4 linked regions of the Homo sapiens genome follow. The protein of the gene in region 2 interacts with the protein of the main gene of each other region in a pairwise test. Each region holds a gene or a part of one and is shown on either strand. Other genes may lie near its edges. The genes, in order: CD53, CNIH2, TMPRSS2 and HIBADH.

Region 1 (7,000 bases), on a different chromosome or scaffold from region 2:
CTTACCCTTATATAAGGAGGAAAATAAGTCTGTTTACTCTTAACTACTCTATTTGGCATTGTACTGGAGTTTCTAGGCAGTGCAAATGAAATATGAAAAGAATGGCATCCAAACTGGAAAGAAAAAAAAGTAAAACTGGCTTTGTTCACAGATATCATGAATGTCTTTGTAGAAAATCTAAATAAATCTACAAAAATACTACTAGAACTAACAAGTAAGTGTAGCAAGGTTGCTAGAAACAAGATTCAATCCACAAAAAATAATAGCATTCTATGCACTAGTAACCATTAGAAATCAAGTATTTTTAAAAGTATCATTTACAATAGCATCATATATGAAATACTTAGGCATAAATCTGACAAAAGTTGTGAAAGAATTGTACACTGAAAACTTAAAAACAAACATTGCTGAAAGAAATTGAAAAGATGCAAATAATGGAGAGATATACCACGTCCATCTACCAGGAATTCAATATTTTTAAGATGTCAATTCTTCCAAATTTATCTATAGATTGTAATCCCCATCAATATTACAGCAGAATTTTTTGTAGGCTTCAAGAAATTAATTCTAAAATTCATTTGGGAATGCAAAAGACTTAGAATAGTAAAAATGAGTTTGATAAAGAACAAAATTGGAGTACAAACACTACCTAATTATATTGCTTTCTATAAAACTACAACAATAAAGACAGGATAGCACTGGTGTTAAATAAATATATCAAGAGAACAGAATAGAGTCCATATGCATATGGACAACTGATTTTCAAAAAAAATACAAAATTAATATATTACAGAATGAAGAATACTTTTTTCAACAAATGGTGCTGGAACAATTGTCTATTAATATGCAAAAATGAACTTGCATTTATACCTCTCTCCATACGAAATCGTAACTAGTGATGAATCATAGATCTAAAGGTAAAATCCAAAACTATAATTCTCCAGAAGGAAATATTTGCAACCTTGGTTATGCAAAGAGTTCTCAGATAAGACACCAAAAGCACAATAAGTTGATAAATTGGACTTCTTCAAAATTAAAAACTTCTGCTCTTCAAAAGACACTGTTAAGAGAATGAAAAGACAAGGCACAGAAGGGACAAAATATTTCCAAATCACACAGGAGATAAAAGGCATGTATCCAGAGTATAAAAACAACTCTTGAAGCTCAATGGTAAGAAAATAAACAATCCAATTTTTAAAATGGGCAAAAGATCAGAACAGACAATTCACCAAAGAAGATACTATATGGATGGCAAATAAGGACATGAAAAAAATTCTCTACTTCATTACTCATTAAGGAAATGCAAATTAAAACCATGGTAAGATACCACTCCACATCTCCTAGAATGGCTAAAATGTTTTCAAAACCTGACCACACCAAGTGTTGGTGAGGATGTAGTGAAACTGGAACTCTTATACACTGTTGGTGGGAATGTAAAATGGTATAACCATGTTCAAAAGCAGTTTGCTCGTTTTGTACAAAGTTAAACATATACTTATCATATGATCCAGCCATTCTACTCCTAGGTATTTACCCAAGAGAAATGAAAGCATATGTCCATACTAGGACTAGTACAGGAAGGTTCATAGTTTTGTAGTATTATTTGTAATAGCCCAAACTGGAAGCAACCCAAATGTCCATAAACAAGTGAATGTATAAATAAATAGTGGTATAATTTTACAATGGAAACTACTTAGCAATTAAAAAGAATGAACTGTTGTTACCCTCTACAGCACAGGTGAATGTAAAAATAATCATGGTGAGTGAAAGAGGTTAAATAAAAAAGAGTACATTCTGTATGATTCCAGTTATATAACATTTTAGAAAATGAAAACTAATCTATAGCAACAGAAAGCAGATCAATGACTGTCTGAGGATGAAGGTGGGGGAGGGCAGGAGGTGAGTAGAGAGGGAGCAGGGAAGGGTGAGAGAAAGGGATTACAGAAGGCCACAACAATCTGTGGTGAGTGATGCATACGCTCAGTGTTTTGACTGTGGTGATGGATTTATGCATGTACACTTACGTCAAAGGCCCCTCCTAATTTGCTCCTGTCCATCACTCCACACTCATGGCAACACCCCCTGTATTATACTTTAAAATTTAGCAAAGCAATATTGAATCCTTGTCTTAATGCTTCCTTCCTTACTTTGGTAATGTGTTTCTTTGCTGAAATTTTCTCTTTTCTTTCTGGCCTCTTATTCTGGTTAGTTACTCATCATCCTAATGATGTGTCACTTTTCCAGGAAGTCCTCTCTGTTTGTGTCTAAGTCTTCACACCCAACCCTCACTTGCCCTAAGGAGTATCTGTAATACCTGTGTACCTCTGCCATTGTACTAACCATTTTGTTTTATAAGTGACTATTCCCTCACTAGAATGTGAGCTCCTTGAGGGTAGGATCTATGCTATTCATCTTTGAATTCTCAAAGCCTCATTACCTCAGAATTATCTGATGTAGTGGAATGAACATGACACTGCAGAGTCAGGAGCCTTGGGCTTGAATTTTCAGTCTGCTAATAAACTGATGTTTTGGACATAGGAAAATAACTAACTCACCCATCAGTAACAGAAAGGAATTGAGCCAGATGCCTCCTAGAGTCACATCAGCCCCAACATCCTGGTATCCTGTGACAATTAGTTCAGGCCCGTGTAACCTGATTGTCCACAGAACACCAGCTGGCTAGGTGCCCACAAACTTAGGGACATTCCTACTGATTCTTTCCTTCACAGACAGGAAGAAGAACCTCTTCTTCCTTCCTCTCCCACTTTCTACCTCTCCAGACTCATACTAAATTGAGTAAGAAAATCTTCTCACCTGGTGAAGATTGTCACTACTTTTGCCACATGCCATAAGGGCCCCAGAGAGAATGCTGCTCCGTTTCCCCTTCCCCTTTTCACTGTTACTGGGCAGTGATTAAGCCTCCCACCCCTTCCAACTACCATCTAGAGGAACCGACACCCCTCCCACAGTCAAAGTCTATGACTCTTAGATGCATGACTCATGGTTCTATGCAAAAAGCCACCAATATCAGTTTCCAGGAAACCTGCGTGACCAAACTGCACTTAACTGTGGCTACCTTCCACAACTCAACATGGAGGTTAGGGATCAACTTTGCTCTTTAGTTTCCTCCAATGGGCTTGAGCTGGTAGAACCTGCGGATTTCTAATTCCATCCCTGTCTTTTTTTTGACCTGTACTAACAGCACCATGTAATCTACTCTTGAATTTAATCAAGCTTAGAAGTGGTTAAGGTTGGATAGAGGCTTCAAGAACCTCGATCAGGCTCGCCATGGTGGCTCACACCTGTAATCCCAGCCATTTGGGAAGCTGAGGTGGGAGAAGCCCTTGAGCCTAGGAGTTTAAGACCAGCCTGAACAACATAGAGAGACCCTGTCTCTATTTTAAAATTTTTTTAAGTTAAAAAAAAAAGAACCTCTATCAGTTCTTCATCTTCAGCCTTATCTGATCCAATATTACAAGCTAGGCTGGAGCCACATAAGACAGCTTTGGTGCTACATAGACCATTACGCTTATGAGATATTAGTAAGTGCTCCTCAAACAAAAGCCAAGATAAAGAAAAAAAAACAGTGTAAGAGAAAAACCTGTTATATGCTAATGTGCACTGTGAGTCTCTAAGACAAAAATATGTTTATATAACTACAAACCTAGTTTTATGTTGCAGATCACTTATTAACAGGTCAAATAACATAGTATTCTGTGGAACACAGTTTGATAAACACTAGCTTTGGAATCAGACAGGTCTAGTTTTGAATTCTGTTAGTGCTACTTATCAGAAGTGTGACCTTGGGCAACTTGCTTAACCTGTCTTTCACTATATCTTTGAAATAGGGTTATTAATACTTACCTCAGAGGTTGTTCTGAGGGCTAAATGAGATACTATTTCCAGGATGGCTCAGTCCCTGTGTATCTGCCTTATTCAGTGAAAACTCACTGAAAGATCAAGTTCAGACCTTACCTACCAGTCCATTCCTAAGGGTAACCCTTAGCTTCTAACAGATTTTTAGGAATAAAACATACACGGGGCAAGAATAATCCCTTGCTTGTTTCATACGTTTTAAAAAGAGGTTTCGTGTGCCATTTGTAAAAAAAATAAAAAAACAAAAAGAAATCAAACAATAAAGAAAAGCACATGTTTTTTTTCCATTTGTACCTATTAGAACAAATTGAAAATGTTAAATTTCAGTAATAAAAGATAAATAAATAAATGCAAGTACAGTTTCTGTAAGACTTCCTTTCAGTGAAGAAAAGCGTTTAATAGAAAAACACCTTTGTATGCTAAGATTGAGAATACGTTATTAGAACACATTTCTTTCTCCACTGAACTCTGTTAAGACATGTTGGAAAATCCCAGCAATAAAAGGCAAATGTAAGCACAGTTTCTTTAAGATGCATAAATTGTTTTCTTTCAGTGAATGGAAGTGTTTGGTAGAGAAACACCTTTGTAAGCTAAGATTGAGAATATATATTATTAGAACACATTTCTTACTCCATTCAAACCTATTAGAAAAAGTTGAAAAATCCAGCAATAGAAAGCAAATGTAAGCATGCTTTCTTTAAAAAAAAATTCTACATTTAAAAAATAAAGAAAAGTATAAAGAAGAAAGCATAAAATCTTCTGAAATCCCACCTCCCAGAGATAACCATCATTAGCATTTTGGCAAACGTCTTTCCAGACACTTCTCCATATACATTTCTCTATATACAGATTGTCAATTTACATACAAGAGCATTCGCAAGGTAATTACGGCTCCCTATCCCTTCCTACACAGAGCCTGTGGCAGTCTTTGTTCCTTAGCAAAGACAATTGAGGCTGTGATTAAGAAAAAGTTTTTCTAAATAGGAGCGAAAATCTGCCCCAGTGAGGGCTCCCAAATGTAGGCCTTGCTCAAACAAACTGAGATACATAATAGATAGTTCACTGAATCCCACAAAATAACTAAGTTCCTCATAAATGTCTTATTTATAATCCTCAAATCGGCCTGACAACTTAGGTGTCATTAGCCCCATTCTGCAAATAGAGAAGCCGAGGACTGGCACAAGGTCACCCAGCTAAGAATCATCAAAGGCAGGGTGAAGGCCAAGTTCTTTCAGCCTCCAAAGCCCATGCTCTTTCCACCGTCCCAGGCTCTGGTTTTGTGCCTATTACTTCCCAACTCATTTGGTGCAATGTGTTGAGCATCCAGGAGAAGACCTTCCATTTTTCATCAGCTCGTTTGAACTCCTGTGAGCAGTGGCTGAGGTGCAATCAAAGTTATCGCTGTACGTCCTTTTGAAGAGTAATAAGCAGTTGTAGAGGAAGAAGTAGGGGTAAAATAAAACGAAGCCAAAGCATCAACTCTCATGTATTCGTGTCCATTCATCTCTCCATCAACTAATCAAGGAATATCTGTTATCTTATTCCTTCCTAAAATTGTAATCTGATAAAAATTTTGTTTCTTCTAGGTCGCTGTTAGGGGAGAGGATTTGGCGATTTATAGAAGAAGAGAGAAATAAGGAAGAAGAAAAGAGGAGAGAAAAAGTGAAGAAAGACAAATCCAGATGATCTTGGAAGCTCACTTCCTCCCATGTGGGAGCTTAGCAAGATACTAATAACAGCTGAGGTGGGACAGGGACTCTTCTAATAAGCTTACTTCGTAAATCAGGAACAGTTACCTAAAACAGTTAGCACTGTTACAGAGTCAAGAGACCAGAGGTTCTCCGTCCTCCTAGGTAGAAATATGCAGAACTTTACATACGGGGTCCCTCGGCTAGAGGCCTGTCCATGGTGTCTGCAGGCTGGCTATGCTCAGATTAAGCAAGACTCTTTGTGGGATAAGAAAAGCCACTTTGTTGGTATTCCTATCAAAAATTTAAATAACCTGAATCTAATCATGAGGAAACATCAGATAAACCCAAATGGAGAAACATTCTAAAAAAGAACTGACCTTACTCTTCAAGAATATCAATGGCAAGAAAAATTCAGGAAGTGTTCCAGACTAAAGGAGACAAAAGTGACAGTTGAAGGCAATGCGTGACTAGAAATTTCCTTTTGCTATAAAGAATATTAAAGAGGTAATTGGTGGAATCTGAATAAAGTACATAGATTGTTAATTATATTGCATAAGTGTTAATTTCCTGGTTTTGATCATTGTAAAGTAGTTATATAAGAGAATGCATTTGTTTGTAGAAATATACACTAACATTCTTAGGGGAAAGGGCATCAATCAAATTACTAATTACTGTCAAATGAGAGAGCCAGAGAATAAACAAATGAAGTAAAATGTTAATATTTTGGAAATCTGGGTGAAAAGGATTTAGAAATTTTTCATAATATTTTTTCAACCTTTTTATCAGTCTGAATTTTGTCATTTTTTTAAAGGGATGGGAAATAAATAAATGATCTAAGGGATTCTCATCTCAAAATCATTACAATTTGTCTTCTATGTTATAAATACTGAGATTCTACAATAGTTATTTTAAGAAGACTAAACTATGGAATAATTCTTGAATGCCTTTATTTGCTCCTGATATAAGGTAAGCCATAAGTTCAAATTTACTTTAACAAGTAAACTTTAACAAGTTTTAAAAGATATGAGGCATTAAAATCATTTCTTACCCCTATTCCTCAATCTAGTTCTCCTGAAATAGAAAAGGCCAAACAAAAAGGTTTGGAAAATAAAATATATGTTAAGTATTTAGTTTGCTAGCATAGTAGCTTAAGATCAATTACATTTACAATTAAGTGGTATTTTTATGTTTGCTTATGTTAAAATGCACTAGGAATTTATGTAAATGAAGAATACAGTCTAATGATGCTTACTTAATAAAAAATCTCTTAGAAAAGGGACTATAGTATAATGTAGAAGAAAGAGCATGCCATAGAGAATCAGAAGACATTCTGAATAACTATTAAGTAATTTTATGATTTTTGGACAAGTCATTTTACCTGAAAAGTAAGCAGATTGGACAGTTGCGACAGCTCCTATTTATTGGCTCTCATT
Region 2 (3,582 bases):
CCTGACTCTGGGAGCTGCAGCCTTCCAGCCCCTCATCATATACTGGCTGACTTTCCACCTGGTCCGGTGACCCCCTGGCCCCAGATGGCACTGAGTTTTTCATTCATTGAAGATTTGATTTCCTTGACTTTGTCTGACCCTTGTTCCTGGGGCCTGATGGGGAGCTACAGATACCTCTGCGCCTCTGCATTGCCCAGGGGATCGGGCTTGGGGCCGTCTAGGAAGAAGGTGGACCCAGGGAGGGCTTCATGACTTTGGTGACCTTGATACTGCCTTGTAAGGGTTTCAGCAGCCTCAGCTGGGAAAGAGAAGATGGAAGGAGGCTGCTGAGGGGACCTGGAAGGCGTCTGATCCCTCTGGGGGGCTCCAGCAGGGTCTGTGGGCTAGTGGGGTGAGACAAGCCAGGCTGGGGATTCAGCTTAGGGCTGCCCCCTATACAGTCCCTGTAATCGGCCCCCATCTCCTCTTCAAGCTTTCCAGGAGCAGAACCGGGGCCCACATATTTGCAGTAGTTTATTCATATTTTGTCACAAATGGCCGGGGAGGGGGTGCCGGACTCCTCCAGGCGACATAGAAAATAGGTCCAAGAGACAAGGTGGGCTGAGGTTGGGGCAGATGGAGACAGGGCTGGAGAAAGAGCCTGGGGGAGAGGGGAGGGCAGACTAGGGGTGGGGCTGCCCCCCTGCTGAGCCTGCTCATTCCCGGTGCGGGTACCCCCCCACCTGCAGGGGGAGCCTCAGGGTGGGGGTGGAGGGGGATGGCCCAGAATTTCCAGGGTCAAGCTCTGCCCCTTGGCAGGGCCCAAGTTTCCCCCGAAATGGACAAGGCCGGAGGTCCTGCCCCTTCCAGGAATGACTGCCATGCCCACAGGCTGGCAGAGGAGCCCCTGCCCCTGTTTAGAGCTCTGCCCAGCCGCTCTAGTCCAAGGGGGAGGGCTCTGAAGGCGGGGTGGGGGGGGTTCCCCGCAGCAGCAGTTTGGGGGTTGGAGAGGCTGGGGGCACCAGTGCCCCCTCCCTCCCCAGGGCTGAGGCCTCTGCGGCCAAGGGGCAGGGCTGGGGGTGCACAGGCGTCCGGTCCGTTCTGGGCTCGCTCCCTGGCCGGCTTCCCCCTTAGAAACTCACCAACGTATAAACCATACTGTAGGAAGATGAGCCAGTGAGCCTAGCCCTGCACACACACAGCCACCCAGATGCCCACCTGGTCACACCCTGGGCTGCCCTCAGTCCTCAGGGGCAAAAGGCAGGAACTTGGGATTGGAAGCGTGATGCTGGGACATCCCTTCCCTGAGTTCTGACTGCTGTGGGCAAGGCCTCACCTGTACAGGTAATAGAAGAAGGAGAGCAGGTAGAAGGCAAGTTTGCACCAGGACTCCTTCTGGCAGTAGTTGAGAATGTCAGCATTCATGATGGAGACCGCATCATACATGACCTCAGAGCCATCTGCAGGACGGTGGAAGTACCTGGGGCAGACAGGGGCCTGAGTGTCTGCCATCAGGACTCCCACCCCCATCCTGCCCCTGTTCCCCATCTCAGCCTCCCCAAGGCAGCTGCTACCCTCACCTCCAGAGGTGGTAGAAGAGGAGGGGGATGTTGAGGCCCAGGGTCACCCACTCTGCTGCACACAGAAACATCAGACAGAAGAGGCCGTGGATGGAGTATTCTGGGACCACCAGCTGGGGGAGTGAGGGTGAGAGGTCAGCGGCCTGGTGCTATGACAGACCAGCCTTCAAGGGGACAGAGAGGAGCTGGGGTTTGGGAGGTGCCCACCCACCGTGACCTCTGGGGATTAAAAGGCCTCTGGCTTCCCACTCCCTCCCAAGTAGAGTGGATCAAACAGGCCCAAAGCAGGGGAAGGCCTGGTTCTGGGCCACAGACAGTGGGGGCAGCGCTGGGCTAGGAGCCTCCTGCCCCCAGCCCTGACACTGACCTTCCTCAGGAGGCAGCAGATGCGTTCGATGTTTTTTAAACGCTCGCGCTGTTGGGGGAAGGAAAAGGCCGCGATGGGGTGGCGGAGAAGCAGGTACTGGAGCAGCTCCCACCGCTCCACATGTGGCCGCCAGGGGGCGCCAGAGCGATCTCTGCGGCACTGTCGGCACGGCCGGGAAGCAGCCGCGCCGTCCCCATGGCGACCGTCACCATGGAAGGGCCTTCACCCGCGTCTCCATGGCAACGGCCCAGAGCCTGGCAACCACCGCCCCGCCAAGAGGAACTCAGCCCTGAGCCCGCGCCAGGTGTTTGCTGGGGGCGGAGACAGAGAGGAAGGGGGCATGGCCGTAGGCCCCCCACCCCACCCCCGTCTTCCCGTCTCCCACCCCCAGCCCACGACAGATGGAAAGACAGACGGACGGACACACCTCGGCACAGCACATGTATCACTTACTGCCCGCGCAGGGTTCCCCTGGTCGATGGGGTTCTTGAAGTCGGTCCGCAGCTCATCAAAGGCTATGATCTGGGGGAGGGGCGTGTGCCCGTCAGGGTTGGGGCAGCAGCTTATGGCCTTCCCCCAAGTCCTTCTGTGGGATAGTTTACTGAAGAGGACCAGCCAGGTGGAGCTTGTTGCAAAGGTGGAGAAACCGAGGTCCAGGGAGGAGCAGGGCCTGGTCCAAGGTCATTACAACAGTCCAGAAGGGAACCCTAGCGTCTGGATGCCCAGTTCAGGCCCATGTCCACTACACCCCCTTCCAAAACATCCCAAGACATGGCTTCGTGTCTGCCCTGCCAAGTCTCAGGCCCTGTGCTGAGCACTGGGGCTCCAGAGGCCTGGGATGCAGCCCCTGCCCAGGAGGAACCCAGGCCCAGAGGGATGATCACTCTGCCTTCCAGGTGATCAGGGTTTGGGGTACAGGGAGGACCTGGAGTGGGCGCTTAACCCTGTGTGGGGGGTGAGGGAGTTCAGGCTGGACTCGGAGTAGGTGTTGGTGAGCAAATGGGGGAAATGCAGTCCAAGCAGTAGAAGGTGCAATGGCAGAGGGGTGAAAGGTCAGGAGACATTCAGGAGGCTGCGGGTTTCATGGGGCTGGCGTGACAGCGCAGCGAGCAGGAAGAAAAGAGAGAGTGGTGGAAGAGGAGCTGGAGAATTCAGCAGAGCCAGACATGGGCGCCCTGTGAGGCCAGAGCAGGAGTTTGGACTTACTTTAACACAAAAATTTTGGGGGGAGGCATTGAAGAGTACACAGCAGCAGAGTGGGGTGGTCAGGTCCATGTCTTAGGATTGGTCCATGTCTCAGGATTGGTGGGGCAGGAAATCCGAGCTCACTGACAGTCACAGCTGAGATCTAAGTGGTGCTTCTCCTGGCCGGTATGTGGATTCACTCATTTAATTCTTAACAACCTTATGACTTAGGTACTAGTTTTATTTTCATGTCTGTTTTGCAGATGAGGAAGCTGAGGCAGGTTAAGTGACTTGTCCAGGGCCACACGGCTGGTTAGTGGATTCTAACCCAGTGTGACTCCAGAGTTAAAATTCCTAACCACTGTGTCATACTCAGGCCAGACCAGCAAGGGGACGGTTTGGAGGGTTAGGGGCAGGGCTGATGGTGGTCTGAGTGAGGAGAGTTGTAGTGGAGACGGAAGGCGTGCATGG
Region 3 (7,050 bases), on a different chromosome or scaffold from region 2:
CAACCCTCCATAAAAATGAAGCAGCCAGGCTCCCTTCATTTGAAAGACTGTCAGAGAGAAATGCAGATTGCAAAGGAAGTGGGTGGAGAGAGCCTCTCTCTGTGGTTATCAGGGCAGAGGACAGGCTTAGATGTGGCCACCATGGGTCCAGGATGCCCGTCCTCACCAAGCCCCCTGTCACTCAGCCACGCAGGCCTTGGTGGGATCTCCAGGGCAGCTCTAAACTCACAATGAGTGCAACACAGGAGATCCTGCACCTCTAAACTCGTATGGCCCAGATACTTCAAAAGCCATTCCACATGCTGCTCTGTGTGATCACGATAAGAACACAGTGTATTAGGTAGGCTGGGCAGGATTTCTCCCACTTAGCAGATGGAGAAACTGAGGCACAAGGACTGGGGGAATCAACCAAAGTCATCCAGTCATTGAGTAGTAGAACTGGGATTAAAACCTGGACCTCCCACTTCCGAACCCAATGCTCCATCTGTGGGCCCTGCAGTCCTGTGTGCCCAGGAGCAGCCTCACCTTTCTCCTCGGTGGCCCCCCACCCGGAAATCCAGCAGAGCTGTTCTGGCTGCAGCATCATGCCTGGGTTGGGCAGACACACTGGTTTCACTAGGTCTGTTTCAAGAAGAGAAAACACAGTGAGCCAGGCGGGTATCACCTATGTCTCCACCTGGCCTTCCCACATGCAGGCTGCTGGGCCTGGCACCCTGGCCACCCTGCCCAGAGGACCCTGCATCCCAACAAGTCCCACATTCTCACTTTCTCCCCCTGCCAGACCTCTCCTTCTGGCAGGCAAGACGTTATGCTACTTATAAGTAGAATTATTTGCTAGCTCTGCTTATAAGAGGAATTATTTGCTAGCTCTGCTTCCAAAATTACATATCTCCAGGTGATCAAGACGGGAAAGACACACAGGAGGCAACAGCCAAAAAGCCGATGGAGTCAATGGAGTCAGCTTTCGCCCCAGAGGCACCACGCCATTGCTCAGGCATTCGCTCTTCTATATGTGAACCATTTCCCAATGTGAATACAGACATGCTGTAGGGAGGGCTGAGGTTTTGCTTCTTCTGTATCCACATGGGGCTAGAACATTCCAGACCCTTGGATGGACCAGAGTGGGACCGAATAAGAGGCTAAGAGAAAGCATGTTTGTCCTGAATTAAGCAACTTGGTTTTAGAATGTATCTTTAAAAATCAAGGATCTTTACACATTTTAGGCCAGTAGTTCTCAACTGGAAGTGACTTTGCCTCAAAGCGGATGTTTGGCAATGTCAGCAGGCAACACTGGTTGTCACAGCTTGGTAGCTACTGGCCTCCAGTGGGTAGAGGCTGGGGACGCTGTTAAACATCCTACAAGGCACAAGAGAGCCCTACAACAGAGAACCACCCAGATGTCAAGGGTGCTGCAGTGGGAAAGCCCTGTTCTAGCCTTTTCCATGCCTGGCTTGAATCACCACCACTCAGTACAGTACAGAACAGATGTGGTGGCTGCTGCCTCCCCCAAAATGCGGCAGGTGCTCTTAGCCTCTGTGAGCCTCTCCCATTGGCCACCCGCTGCACGCTACCCTCGCTCAACGCAAATGCCTCCCTTCCATTTGGCATAGCACAAGTGTCATTTCCAATCAACATCTCTTTAAGATTCTGCCAACCTGCTTGCCAAGCCTGAGCCACACGTACCGTTGAAAGTCAGAGGCTTCTGCAGCTTCATCAGCGCAATGTCATTGTTCTTGGTCTTGGAGTCATAATTTGGATGAGAAATCACTTTTTCTACTTGGTATCCGGCTCCATAGAACATGAAAGATTGTCTCAAAATCCCCGCAAATGCCGTCCAATGCCATGGATTGTTAAGAGGTCTGGGAGAGAAGAAGGACTCAGTATCTCAGAGCCATAAACACAGAGCTCTCAGTGGATGAACTTCCAACGTCAGAAGCTGGAGGCAAGACACCCAGAGGCAGGATGGTTCACCAAAAACCACACAGGGAGATAGTGGAAGAGGTGCTCGGTCTCCCCTTCTCCCCCACACTCCCCCAACCCCGACTCCCTGCCTCAGCCCCCCACATCATCCTTCTTTCTGGCTCTTGCATCACCTTCAAGGAATCTGCAGCACCCACAATGGGCCGACATCCCTCCCTGGGGTTTCAAGGCCATTTCTAGCAGGACTGGCCCTTATTTTCCTTTGTACGCCAAAGCATTTCCTGGCACATGGTAGGTGCTTAATAAATGGATACTAATGAACAGACTTGTCCGATATCAATCAAACCATTTCCTTTATCCAAGAGTTTCCCTCTTAAGAGAATCCCAGCTCCTAGTGGGCCCAGAGCACCCAGTGGTGTGAAGAGGGGGAGAGAAGGGAGCACCCTTGGGTAACAGCCCTTGAGAGAAACCCAGTTCCTAGAGGGCCCAGAGCACCTGGGGGTGTGAAGAGGGGGAGAGAAGGGAGCACCCTTGGGTAACAGCCCTTGCTTCCTTGACCTTCATAACAGCCCGAGAGGAGAAGGGCATGCCCATCTTATAGTTGTACATGCCATGGATCAGAGACGTTGAGTGAATCGTCTAAGGGCACGCAGCAAGAGAGGGCTGGGCCAACAGTCAAACCCAGTTCAGCCTCTCTCTAAGGCAGAAAAATACATCCGCCAAGTGAGGCCTCCTCCAAAGCAGCATGTGACCAAAAGCACTATGTGTTTAAGGAAAAGGGGAGGGGGTGGTAGCGTCCATAAATGCTAATACTGTCACGGCTAGCCTCACCCCTACCTAACCCTCTGCATGAGCAATGCTGTGGCCAAGAACGCTTAACCCCAGGGACCTTCCAGCAGGGCAGCCTGAAGCCTGTCTGAGTGTGCCCTCTCCTGGGACTAGCGTCCCGGAGACAGGATACCTCAGGGGGCAGGGGCTTTGCTCAAGGGCAGGACAGAGCTCAGAGGACAGTGGCTGGAAGGAACGCTGGTCACGGCGACATCGTGGAGAATGTTCCACCTGCACCCTGTGCCCTGCGTGCAGGGGACACTCAGTGCATACAGCCATGCACTGCCTGGCATGAGCGCACTTGATGTCTCACAGCCCTAGGAAGCAGGTGCAATACTCTCCCCATTTAAACACAAGGATGCCGGGGCTGCAAGGGTTGAGACCTGCTCAAGGTCACAGGGTGGCTGTAGGCCAGCCCTGAGCCCCCACCCGGCCCGCGCCGCCCCTGGCATACTTTTCCACGCAGTGGGCGGCTGTCACGATCCACTCGGGGGTGATGATGGAGCCTCCGCACACGTGGACGTTCTGGACGTGCAGGCTGACCTGCCAGGGCCAGGCCCCCGGGAGCGCGCTCTCGCCGCCCACAATCCTGCTCTGGCGGCTTGAGTTCAAGTTGACCCCGCAGGCTGAGGATGACAAACAGGAGGCCAGTGGGGTGAGACCAGCAGAAGCCGCCCAGCCACCCAGCGCCCGCCCCTCCCAAGGGTCTCCCAGGCTGCAAGGACAGGGCAGGGGCACCACTGCTGGGGATGGACTTAGGGGGCTCCTGGGGGTCTCCTCTTGGGGAAGGGAGGATGCCCCTCCAGCCCACCCAGACCCAGGAAGCACCACTTCCCTGAACACTCCTGTGATCCCATGGGGTCTCCCGGGACCCAGGTGGGGGTGTTCTGGATAACAAGGCCCTGGGGACTCCTTGAGTCTTGGAGGGACTGACACCACTCAGGGACCCCAGATTCTCACACAAAGAAAAGGAAGATGGGAGGGGCAGGGCTGGAAGTGAGTGAGGGGGTGAGGAGACGAGGAGGTGAGTGAGAAGGTGAAGGGGTGAGTGAGGGAGTGAGTGAGGAGTGAGGAGGTGAGGGGGTGAGTGGGTAATTGAAAGGATGAGGGAGTAATTGAGGGGGTGAGGGGGTAATTGAGGGGGTGAGGGGATAAGTGAGGAGGTGAGGGGGTGAGTGAGGAGGTGAGAGGGGTGAGGGGGTGAGTGGGGGGTGAGGGGGTGAGTGTGGGGTGAGGGGGTGAGTGGGGGGTGAGGGGGTGAGTGGGGGGTGAGGAGGTAAGTGAGGAAGTAAGGGGGTGAGTGAGGGGGTGAGTGAAAAGGTGAGGGGGTGATTGACGAGGTGGGGGGGTGATTGACGAAGTGAGGGGGTAAGTGAGGGGATGAGCAAGGAGGTGAAAGGGTGAGTGAGGGGGTGAGGGCATGAGTGAGGAGGTGAGGGGGTGAGTGAGGAGGTGAGGGGGTGAGTGAGGAGGTGAGGGGGTGAGTGAGGGGGTGAGGGGGTGAGGGAGTGAGTGAGGGGGTGGGTGAGGAGGTGAGGGGGTGAGTGAGGAGGTGAGGGGGTGAGTGAGGGGGTGAGGGGGTGAGGGAGTGAGTGAGGGGGTGGGTGAGGAGGTGAGGGGGTGAGTGAGGAGGTGAGGGGGTGAGTGAGGAGGTGAGGGGGTGAGTGAGGAGGTGAGGGGATGAGTGAGGGGGTGAGGGGGTGAGGGGTGAGTGAGGGGGCGAGGGGGTGAGTGAGGGGGCGAGGGGGTGAGGGGTGAGTGAGGGGGTGAGGGGGTGAGGGGTGAGTGAGGGGGCGAGGGGGTGAGTGAGGAGGTGAGCGGGTGAGTGAGGAGGTGAGGGGGTGAGTGAGGAGATGAGGGGGTGAGTGAGGGGGTGAGGGGGTGAGTGAGGGGGTGAGGGAGTGAGTGAGGGGGTGGGTGAGGGGTGGGTGAGGTGGTGAGTGAGGGGGTGAAGGGGTGAGTGAGGGGGTGAGTGAGGGGGTGAAGGGGTGAGTGAGGGGGTGAGGGGGTGGGTGAGGGGTGGGTGAGGGGGTGAGTGAGGGGGTGAGGGGGTGAGTGAGGGGATGAGGGAGTGAGTGAGGGGGTGGGTGAGGGGTGGGTGAGGTGGTGAGTGAGGGGGTGAGGGGTGAGTGAGGGGGGTGAGGGGTAAGGAGGTGAGGGGGTGGGTGAGGGGTGGGTGAGGTGGTGGGTGAGGGGGTGAAGGGGTGAGTGAGGGGGTGAGTGAGGGGATGAGGGAGTAATTCAGAGGGTGAAGGGGTGAGTGAGGGAGTGAAGGCATGATTGAGGGGGTGAAGGGGTGAGTGAGGGGGTGACTGAGGGGTGAAGGTGTGAGTGAGGAGGTGAGTGAGGGGGTGAAGGCATGAGTGAGGGGGTGAATGGGTGAGAGAGGGGGTGAGTGAGGGGTGAAGGGATGAGTGAGGGGGTAAGTAAGGGGTTGAGGGGGTGAGGGGGTGAGTGAGGAGGTGAAGGTGTGAGTGAGGGCGTGAGGGGGTGAGGGAGTGAGGGATTAGTGAGGGGGTGAGGGGTTGAGTGAGGAGGTGAGCAGGTGGGTGAGTGGATGAAGGGGTGAGTGAGGGGGTGCAGGGGTGAGTGAGGGGGTGAGGGGTGAATGAGGGGTTGAGTAGGGGGTGAGTGAGGAGGTGAGGTGGTGAGTGAGGGGGTGAAGGGTGAGTGAGGGGGTGAGGAGGTGAGTGAGGAGGTGACGGGGTGGGGTGAGGGAGGGATGAGGGGGAGAGTGAGGAGGTGAGGAGGTGAGTGAGGGTTGAGGGAGTGAGGAGGTGAGTGAGGGTTGAGGGAGTGAGGGGGTGAGTGAGGGGGCGAGGGGGTGGGTGGTGAATGAGAGGTTGAGGGGGTGAGTAGGGGGTGAGTGAGGGGGTGAGGGGTGAGTGAGGTCTGCTGCCTTCCCTGCTTCCTGTGTGTGAGTGTCTTCTCCACCAGGAGATGAGTGCATGGGCAGAGGGCAGGGCGGGTGCCACGCACCCTTGGGGCTGTGCTGGACCCCCACTCAGGACCTAAAGAAGACCTGAGCCAGCCCTGCCGGGATGGGACGGTGTCAGCTCCTTCCACCTCTTCAAATGAAAAGCTGAGCTCAGGACCACGGCCCCACGACAGCACTGGGCCATCCCAGAGGAGAGGGACGGTGGCTTCCACATTTGCAAACAGTTTGGAAACTGTAAGCACTCTAAACACAGAGATGGGGACACCCAAGTCTAAGCCACCGTCCAAAATTCAGGAGAGAAGAGGCAAGAGCACTGTTGTTCTCTGGTCTTGTCCCTCCTCCCGGGTCCCACTGGCTGATGAGCACCTGGTGGCCACACGGTGGTGCTGGACCACAGCCCCGCAGATGCTCCAAGTCCACGTTAGGTGGCTGCCAGGGCTCACTAACGCCACCCCCCTTTGCTTTCTGGAGAAAGAGACCTGCCGGGCCTCCAGCTCATGGGTGGCATAAAGTGTAGGGCTTTGTCAGCTTCTTGAGCGTGCCTGATCTCAGGGGGTGTCCCTTGGACCCAAGGCTGAAGGTGTCTACAGGCCATGGAAATCTAAACCAGGAGCTCCTTGGAAAGAGCGAGACGCCGCTGGGCACATTCCAACCCGTGACCCCACCTTCTTCCCTCCCACGCCCCCAGAGACACAGGGAGTACTGTTCTGAAAGTAGAGAGCTTTTCCTAGTTAGAAGTATCAAAAGGGGGACTCCAGATGAACTTACCTATACAGCGTAAAGAAACCACTGCTTTTGAAGAACAGGCATCACTGCAAAAAGAACAGGGGAAATTCTGGTCACGATAGTGCGGAGTCACCTGCCTCTCACATGCTTAGAAATCAGTCATTTCTTCCGATGTTCCCTCTCCTGTCTTCTGAGACATAGAAGGGTCTGCTAGTTACAACTCCAATAAGGTAAGTAAATCCATATAGGGACAGTGGCAAAGACCAGACACTGAGCCAAGGTACGCGGCTCACATCCCCACAGTGTGACCTTGGGCAAGTTACTTAACCTCTCTTAAAATTGTACCAGCTCCTAGGACGGTTGTGAGGGTAAGTATACAATAATGCTAGTTTTGTTTTTCCTCTTGGAATTTAAAATCATCTTCTAATTTTTAAGGAAGCCATTTGGAAACCTCTGGGCTCCTATAACTGCTTTAAATTTGTAGTGTTGAAAGCAATATAACCAATAGTTTCCCTAGGATTAGAAGAAACGTAAGAGTTACTCATTTGGGAGTCAAACATCCCAGGTTATGGATGAAGAGGAAGTAACTGATGCATTTTGTCCTGCAGTGAATTTCCCAGGCTATGCTGAGAAGGGAA
Region 4 (7,050 bases), on a different chromosome or scaffold from region 2:
TAGAGTTAATGTAGTTACATGAGAAAATTTTCTTTTTTCTCATTTGGAACAATTTTTTTGTGCAAAGTAAAACATGCCATAGTTTTGTGTATTAATATAATAAATGTGGGAAAGTGGATGATTATGAACTTGAAAACCCAAAATTATCATAGAATTTCAAAAGCTTAAAAGGAATTCAGTGATGATTTTCTCTAACCACTTCACATCCTAGATGAAGAAACAGGGTGAGCAGCATTTAATGACTTGCTGGAATGATAGAAATGCTTTGTCTGTAATCCTTGGCATCTTGTGCATATCTTGTGAGAGCAGTTATCACATGGTATTACAGTCGTTGTCTGTTTCCTTGAGACTTTCCTTCTCTCTTGCCTCCTGAGAATCTCTTATGTACTAGAGCTAGTGGATGTGAGTGAATGAGCCAACAATCACTGCCCTCATGGAGGTAGTGTTATTCTAGGGGATACAGACCAGAAACAAATGAAACTGTTAAAGAGGTGATAAATGCTATGAATAAAATTGAAGCAGGAAAAGGAGAGAGTGATGAGATGCTATTTTAGATTGTTAGGTTGAGTGGTCAGGGAAGGCCTCTCTGAAGAGGTGAATTTTGAACAGAGGCCTGAATGAACTAAACTATACCAGTCATGAGTATCTGGGGGAAGAACATTTCAGGCAAAAGGAATAGCAAGTTCAAGGCTTTGAGATGGGAACATACTTCACCTGTTTCAAGAACAGCAAGGAGTGCAAGGTGGCTGGAAAGCAGCAAGTGATGGGAAGAATGATATGAAATGAAATAGGAGAGGTAGCCCAGAGCCACATCATGTAGGGCTTTGTAGGACTTGGGATTTTATACTGAGAGGGCTAGGAAGTCTTTGGAGGGTTGGGAATAGGGAACAAACATGAGCTGGGTGAACTAGATTTATATTTTAAGAGGATTCCTCTAGCTGCTATATGGAGAACAGACTACAGAGACAAGAGGAGAAGAGAAATAAAGTAGGAGACTATTGCAGTAATCCAGGCAGGAGTTACCTGTAGCTCAGACCGTGGTAGTAGGGATGGACAGTGAGAGAAGTGGCTGAATCACCAGTGTGTACCTTCTTAGGAGCAGGGACATTTGTGATTCATCCTTCACCCAAGGGCTTACCACAGGGCCTGATTCTTAGCAGGTGCCCAGTTAATTGTGTTGAATAGATAAAACAAATGCAGATTTCTTGTCTTTCCCATTCACTATGCTGCCAGAGAAAGATTTTGCAAGAAGTCTTCACAGTGATGTCATCTTAACATAGTGGCTGTAGACCACTAAAGTTCTTCTTGACCTGTGCCAGCCTACTTCTGTTATTTATAGGTGCGGCCCAAACCCGCTAATACTTAAAAAGAGGGGCTAAAATTATCCCAGAGAAGACAATGGCTTAAGTAACTAAATAGGAAAATGCCCACTTCACAAATTCAAGTTAAAAAGTAGTAAGCCCTTACATTTAAATAGCATTTTTAGCTGGTCACGGTGCTCATACCTGTAATCCCAGCACTTTGGGAGACCAAGGCAGGAGAATTGCTTGAGCCCAGGAGTTTGAGACCAACCTGGGCAATAAAGTGAAACCCCATCTCTACCAAAAACAACAACAACAACAACAAAAACAAATAGCCAGGCACAGTGGCACATGCCTGTAGTCCGAGCTACTCGAAAGGCTGAGGTGGGAGGATTGCTTGAGCCTGGGAAGTTGAGGCTGCAGTGAGCTATGATCATCACACTCCAGCCAGGGTGACAGAGTAAGACCCTGTCTCAAAAAATAAATAAATAAATAGCATTTTTATTTTACAGCATACATTCACATATTCACAGCCAATCTATGAAGAAGTTATTAATACTTTTCCTGTTTTATACACTGAGACTCAGAAGTTAAATAATTTGTCACACAATTTGCCAGCAAGTGGCACATCCCCAAAACAAAATATAACATTTCCAGATCTTTTACCCTTTCTACCATGCTATTTATCAGCCAACCATTTGTTGAGTATATCATGCACTATAATAGATAATGGGGATGCTGGCAAGCCATGACCTCAGTGCTGACTTTTTAGGAAGTTTATAATGGAGGAATCAGACAAGAAAATCCAAGATTTTAATAAAGTATGATAAATGCTGTAATAGAATCAAGCACAGGGTGGATTTTGGTTTTGTATATATAATTAATAAAATATATGTAAAATAAGTATTTCTTTCAGTATTCTAGCAACTACCCGAGTATGCATTGTGTGTTTTTCTATTTTAGAAAATGGACTAGAATCAAAATGGCGTGTCATTGTAATAAATTTCTTCATTTTTGATAGACATAAACATCTATACAATGTCTCCTGAAATCCATAAGCTGTCTTACACAGTTTTAGAGTCGCAGCTTTCTAGGTATTCTTTCCTAAGTTCAAAATGGTTACATTTATTTCAGGATAATTTCAGTCTTTTTGTTTTGTTTTTGAGACAGGGTCTTGCTCTGTTGTCCAGGCTGGAGTGCAGTGGTGCGATCTCAGCTCACTGCAGCCTCCACCTTCTGGGTTCAAGCAATCCTCCATCTCAGCCTCCTGAGTAGCTGGGACTACAGGCACATGCCACCATGCCCAGCTAATTTTTGTATTTTTTGTAAAGACGGTTTCGCCGTGTTGCCCAGGCTGGTCTCAAACTTCTGGGCTCAAGCAGTCCACCAGCCTCAACCTCCCAAAGTGCTGGGATTACAGATGTGAGCCACTATGCCTAGCTAATTTAGGTCTTTGGCTGTGGGACTAGGCTTGATAGTGTTATATGATTAAAGGAATATGTATGAGAAGATAAGATTTGGTTCCAAGGAATGTCAAAACTTTAGAATTACCCATTTTAGTTAGATGCTTACTTTGGGATGTAGGTTATGATGAAGTCGGAAATAATTATGATACCACATCAATATGAGGAAAGAGTCGAACTACCACAGACCTCTGAATTAAAAGATAAATTATTCTTTCTTTTGTGGTCTTCTCTTGCTTAAGCAACTTATTTCTGCTTTTTAAAATATGTGTTTGAATAAGTGAGAAAGTACACCTGTCAAAAGACTAACCAGCTGAGAACCATTGTCAGCATTAATTTTTTTTAAATAAATGACTCCGAAGCTATTTAGCAGTCTGTAATCTAAATACAAAGCAAAACTATTGATCTATGATGGATAGTGCTGGATTTGCTTGTAAGCTTTGACTTAAATCGTCTACTTAATTTCTCTAGGTGAGATCAACAGGATTAGGAGGAATGGTGGTTATATGGTTTAAATAAAAATGTCTAGAAATTGAGCGAAATAATTATAAAACATTAATGGTTTACCATCTTGATAAAGTAAACTAGAAACTAACAAAACAGCAGTCACTTTAATGTTATAAGAATGTTTGAATGACATAGATTGGCTAATTGAAAGCATTTTTTATAAATTGGGTTTTTGTATATAATCCAAAGTGAAGATATTGTAAAATGGTGTAATTTAACCATATGTGTGAGCATCTCAGGTTTTCATAACATGTGGGCACTCACTCTTCCAAGATTGTTTGGCTAGCATAATGCTGACTTTTTTGGCTTTTAATAATTGCTTATGAATAGTATAAACTGTAAAATAGAAAGCTATTTGATTTGACAATAGCAAAATATTCACAATTTGAATGAAATAGGTATCTCTTCACTTGGGCTTTTAAAAAATATATAAATACTGTATTTCATTGAACACATTAAATCCAAAAGCAGGCCATTACCTGCAGCTGTCTAATGGCCAGATTTGATACATACTACAGACAATTACAGTTTCTTTGTTCTTACTGTACTGTAAAATAAGTTCTTCCACATACTTGCCTGGGAAGTTTTGAAAAATAAAGCCTAACTTGAAAATTATGAATCAAGATTTCTTTCAATATTAAAAACAGTAATAGCGCTCTTGGTTTTATTTTATAGTTAATAAAAATTTAGATGAATGAAGCTTTTCCTCTCCCTTTTAGGACAAGTCTAGATTATATTTTCTGTGCTAAATTGAAGGTTCTTTCTCCAATCATTAGAATGAATGAACATGCATTAAGCCTCTGTTAAAAGCTACTAAGGAGTAGTGAAGTCAGTGTTAAAGTTTATTTCTTCTTCTTGCTCATATCACTAAAAATAAATTGCCCAAAAGATGTATAGCAGGAAGGAAAAGAAAAATCAAATAATATTGAAAAGTACATATGAGAATAATCAGTCAAAATAAGCAAAGTTTTCCTTGCCTTAAAAAAAGAATCTACCATCTGAAATGCCTACTTGTTTAAGGAACAAAGAGCCAGGTCTCCCTCTTTGTAGATCTCACTTATAGATAGTATTTGGAGAGTGGGTGAGTGAGCAAGAACCCCGAATCCAAACGTGGGCAGCAGACCTCTCTCTGGCTGCTCCTTTGCTGATCAGGGCCCAGGTAAAACTTTTTTTTTGTATACTTTCTATAACTTAGTAGGTTTCTTAGGAGAATAATAGATGCATGGGAATAATAACATTTACATTTTAAGTTCCCTTATCTGTTAGGCCATGATTGTGCCAAAATGATTAAGGTGAGTTGAGATTGAGAGTACAACTGAATCTGTATGTCTCTCTTGGTTTGTGATTAATCTGGGTGATACTTGATTGCTGAATATTTCTGTAGAGATTTAGAGTATCTTATACATGCCTGGCATAAATACAGATTGGAGGCAGGATGTTTTTAGTTGGTTTCTCTAATTTTATTACCTGCCTAAACATTTTAAGAAATATATTCTTTTGCTTCTATCCCTTTACCCCCAAATGATTCAGGTGTAGGAGCTGCACGATCTGGGAACCTCACGTTTATGGTGGGAGGAGTTGAAGATGAATTTGCTGCTGCCCAAGAGTTGCTGGGGTGCATGGGCTCCAACGTGGTGTACTGTGGAGCTGTTGGGACTGGGCAGGTAAGATTTTTACATTAATGACCTTGACTTGATGATGTAAAATTGACTAATGTTCCTTTCTCTTTCCTGACCATATTTTTATTCTTCTTTCTTCAACCTATGGATTCTTTGCTCAGATTTTAAAACATTTATTTGGAATAAATTAGTTTTGCATCATTCCTGGTGGGCTTAAGCAGACATCAGCCAATTTACTTATTTAAAAAACTTCCATTATTGGCCAGACGTGATGGCTCATGCCTGTAATCCCAACACTTTGGGAGGCTGAGACAGGAGGATCACTCAAGCCCAGGAGTTTGACACCAGCCAGGGCAACATAGTAAGACCCCATCTCTACAAAGAACAAAAAAATTAGTCGAGTGTGGTGACACACACTTATAGTCACAGCTACTTAGGAGGCTGAGGTGGGGGGATCACCTGAGCCCAGGGGTGGGGGATTGAGGCTGCAGTGAGCCATGATAGAGCCACTGCAGTCAGCCTGGGTGATAGAGCAAGAACCTATCTCAAAAAAAAAAAAAAAAAAAAAAAAAACGGGAAAAAAAATTCATTATTAGGATCTTGACATGTCTGTCATCCCAGCAACTAGTGAAATCATCCTTAAAACTGCTCTTATTCGAAGTGCTTGTTTCTGAGTTGCTATTTTCCTCCATCTAATTTTGTAATTACAGTTGACCCTTGAACAACACAGATTTGAACTCCATGGGCCCACTTATACATCTATTTTTTTTCCATAGATATATTGAAAATTTTTTTGAAGATTTGTGACAGTTTGAAAAAACAGATGAACCACATGGCCTAGAAATATCAAAAACATTAAGAAAAAGTTAGATATGTCGTGAACGCATAAAATATATGTAGATAGATACTAGTTTATAAATATGCACAAATCTGTTATAAAGAGTTAAAATTTATCAAAGTTTACAAATATTTATAGACCATACATGGCACCATTTACAGTTGAGAGAAATGTAAAGAAATGTAAAGATGCATTAAATCATAATGGCATAAAATTAACTCTAGTAATACTGTACTACTGTAATAATTTTGTGGCCACCTGTTGCTATTGCAGTGAACTCAAGTGTTACAAGTATTGAGCATAAAATGTCATGTGACACTAATCATCTTTGTGTGAGTGGTTCATCTCTTTAGTAAATTGTGTATCATAGTAAAAATTGATCTCTTGGAATTCTCTTGTATTTTTTTATCATGTTTAGTGCAATACCATAAACCTTGAATGACACCATGGGACCCATACAAAGTGCCACTAGTGATGCTGGAAGTGCTCCTAAGAAGCTGAGAAAAGTCATGACATTACAAGAAAAAGTTGAATTGCCTGATACATACCATGGATTGAGGTCTGCGGCTGCGTTTGCCCTCCATTTCAAGATAAACAAATCCAATGTAAGGACCATTGTAAACAAAGAAAAGAATAGTCATGAACCCATCACTGCAGCTACTCCAGCAGGCTTGCACTTTTTGCAGAACATCTTTTTATCTCACATTGAAAATGCAGCTTTTATGTAGATGCAGGATTGCTGTAGAAAGGCATACTTACATCTAATATGATTCAAGAAAAATATGACAACTTAAAGCAAAAAGAAAGTGAAGGATCTAAAGCTGGAGAATTTAATGCCAGCAAAGGATGGTTTGATAATTTTAGGAAGAGGTTTGCTTAAAAAATGTCAAGAAATAGGCGAAGTAGCTTCTGCCAACCAAGAGACAGCAGACAGTTCCCAGGCGCCATTAAGAAAAAATCATTGAAGAGAAAGTATATCTGCCTGAATGAGTTTTTAATGCAGACAGAAGTGCCCTATTACGGAGAAAAAAAAAAAAAAAAGGATGCTCGAAGGACATTTATTAGGAAGAGAAGCAAGCAGCACCAGGATTTAAGGCAGGAAAGGATAGGCTAACTCTACTGTTTTGTACAAATGCAGTTGGGTTGAAAATCAGGACTGCCCTTATCTATAAAGTTGCTAACTTCTGAGGCTTTAAGTGAAAAGATAAATACCAGCTGCCTGTCTTTTGGTTGTACAGCAAGAAGGCCTGGACGATGAGAACCCTGTTTCTGGATTGTTTCCATCAATGGCTTTGTCTCTGGAGTCAGGCAATATCTTGCCA

The links.
Region 1: the proteins of CNIH2 (region 2) and CD53 interact in binary tests that used the Homo sapiens proteins (3 or more experiments, as listed by UniProt).
Region 3: the proteins of CNIH2 (region 2) and TMPRSS2 interact in binary tests that used the Homo sapiens proteins (3 or more experiments, as listed by UniProt).
Region 4: the proteins of CNIH2 (region 2) and HIBADH interact in binary tests that used the Homo sapiens proteins (3 or more experiments, as listed by UniProt).

What each region holds. Positions count from the first base shown.
Region 1 is NC_000001.11:110,876,148-110,883,147, reverse strand, and holds part of CD53 (leukocyte surface antigen CD53), read right to left. Parts: exon of another isoform or gene 5,514-7,000; coding exon of another isoform or gene 5,463-5,513; intron 1-5,462. UniProt on the Homo sapiens protein: Structural component of specialized membrane microdomains known as tetraspanin-enriched microdomains (TERMs), which act as platforms for receptor clustering and signaling.
Region 2 is NC_000011.10:66,281,125-66,284,706, reverse strand, and holds the end of CNIH2 (protein cornichon homolog 2), read right to left. Parts: exon of another isoform or gene 3,202-3,582; coding exon of another isoform or gene 3,133-3,201; intron 2,449-3,132; coding exon 2,380-2,448; exon of another isoform or gene 2,354-2,379; intron 1,975-2,353; coding exon 1,927-1,974; intron 1,673-1,926; coding exon 1,560-1,672; intron 1,460-1,559; coding exon 1,316-1,459; intron 1,138-1,315; coding exon 1,110-1,137; 3' UTR 501-1,109; downstream 1-500. Other genes in the region: protein YIF1A, read left to right, coding at 1-70. UniProt on the Homo sapiens protein: Regulates the trafficking and gating properties of AMPA-selective glutamate receptors (AMPARs).
Region 3 is NC_000021.9:41,470,123-41,477,172, forward strand, and holds part of TMPRSS2 (transmembrane protease serine 2), read right to left. Parts: intron 6,499-7,050; coding exon 6,455-6,498; intron 3,375-6,454; coding exon 3,203-3,374; intron 1,860-3,202; coding exon 1,684-1,859; intron 622-1,683; coding exon 526-621; intron 1-525. UniProt on the Homo sapiens protein: Plasma membrane-anchored serine protease that cleaves at arginine residues. Participates in proteolytic cascades of relevance for the normal physiologic function of the prostate.
Region 4 is NC_000007.14:27,540,852-27,547,901, reverse strand, and holds part of HIBADH (3-hydroxyisobutyrate dehydrogenase, mitochondrial isoform 1 precursor), read left to right. Parts: intron 1-4,801; coding exon 4,802-4,935; intron 4,936-7,050.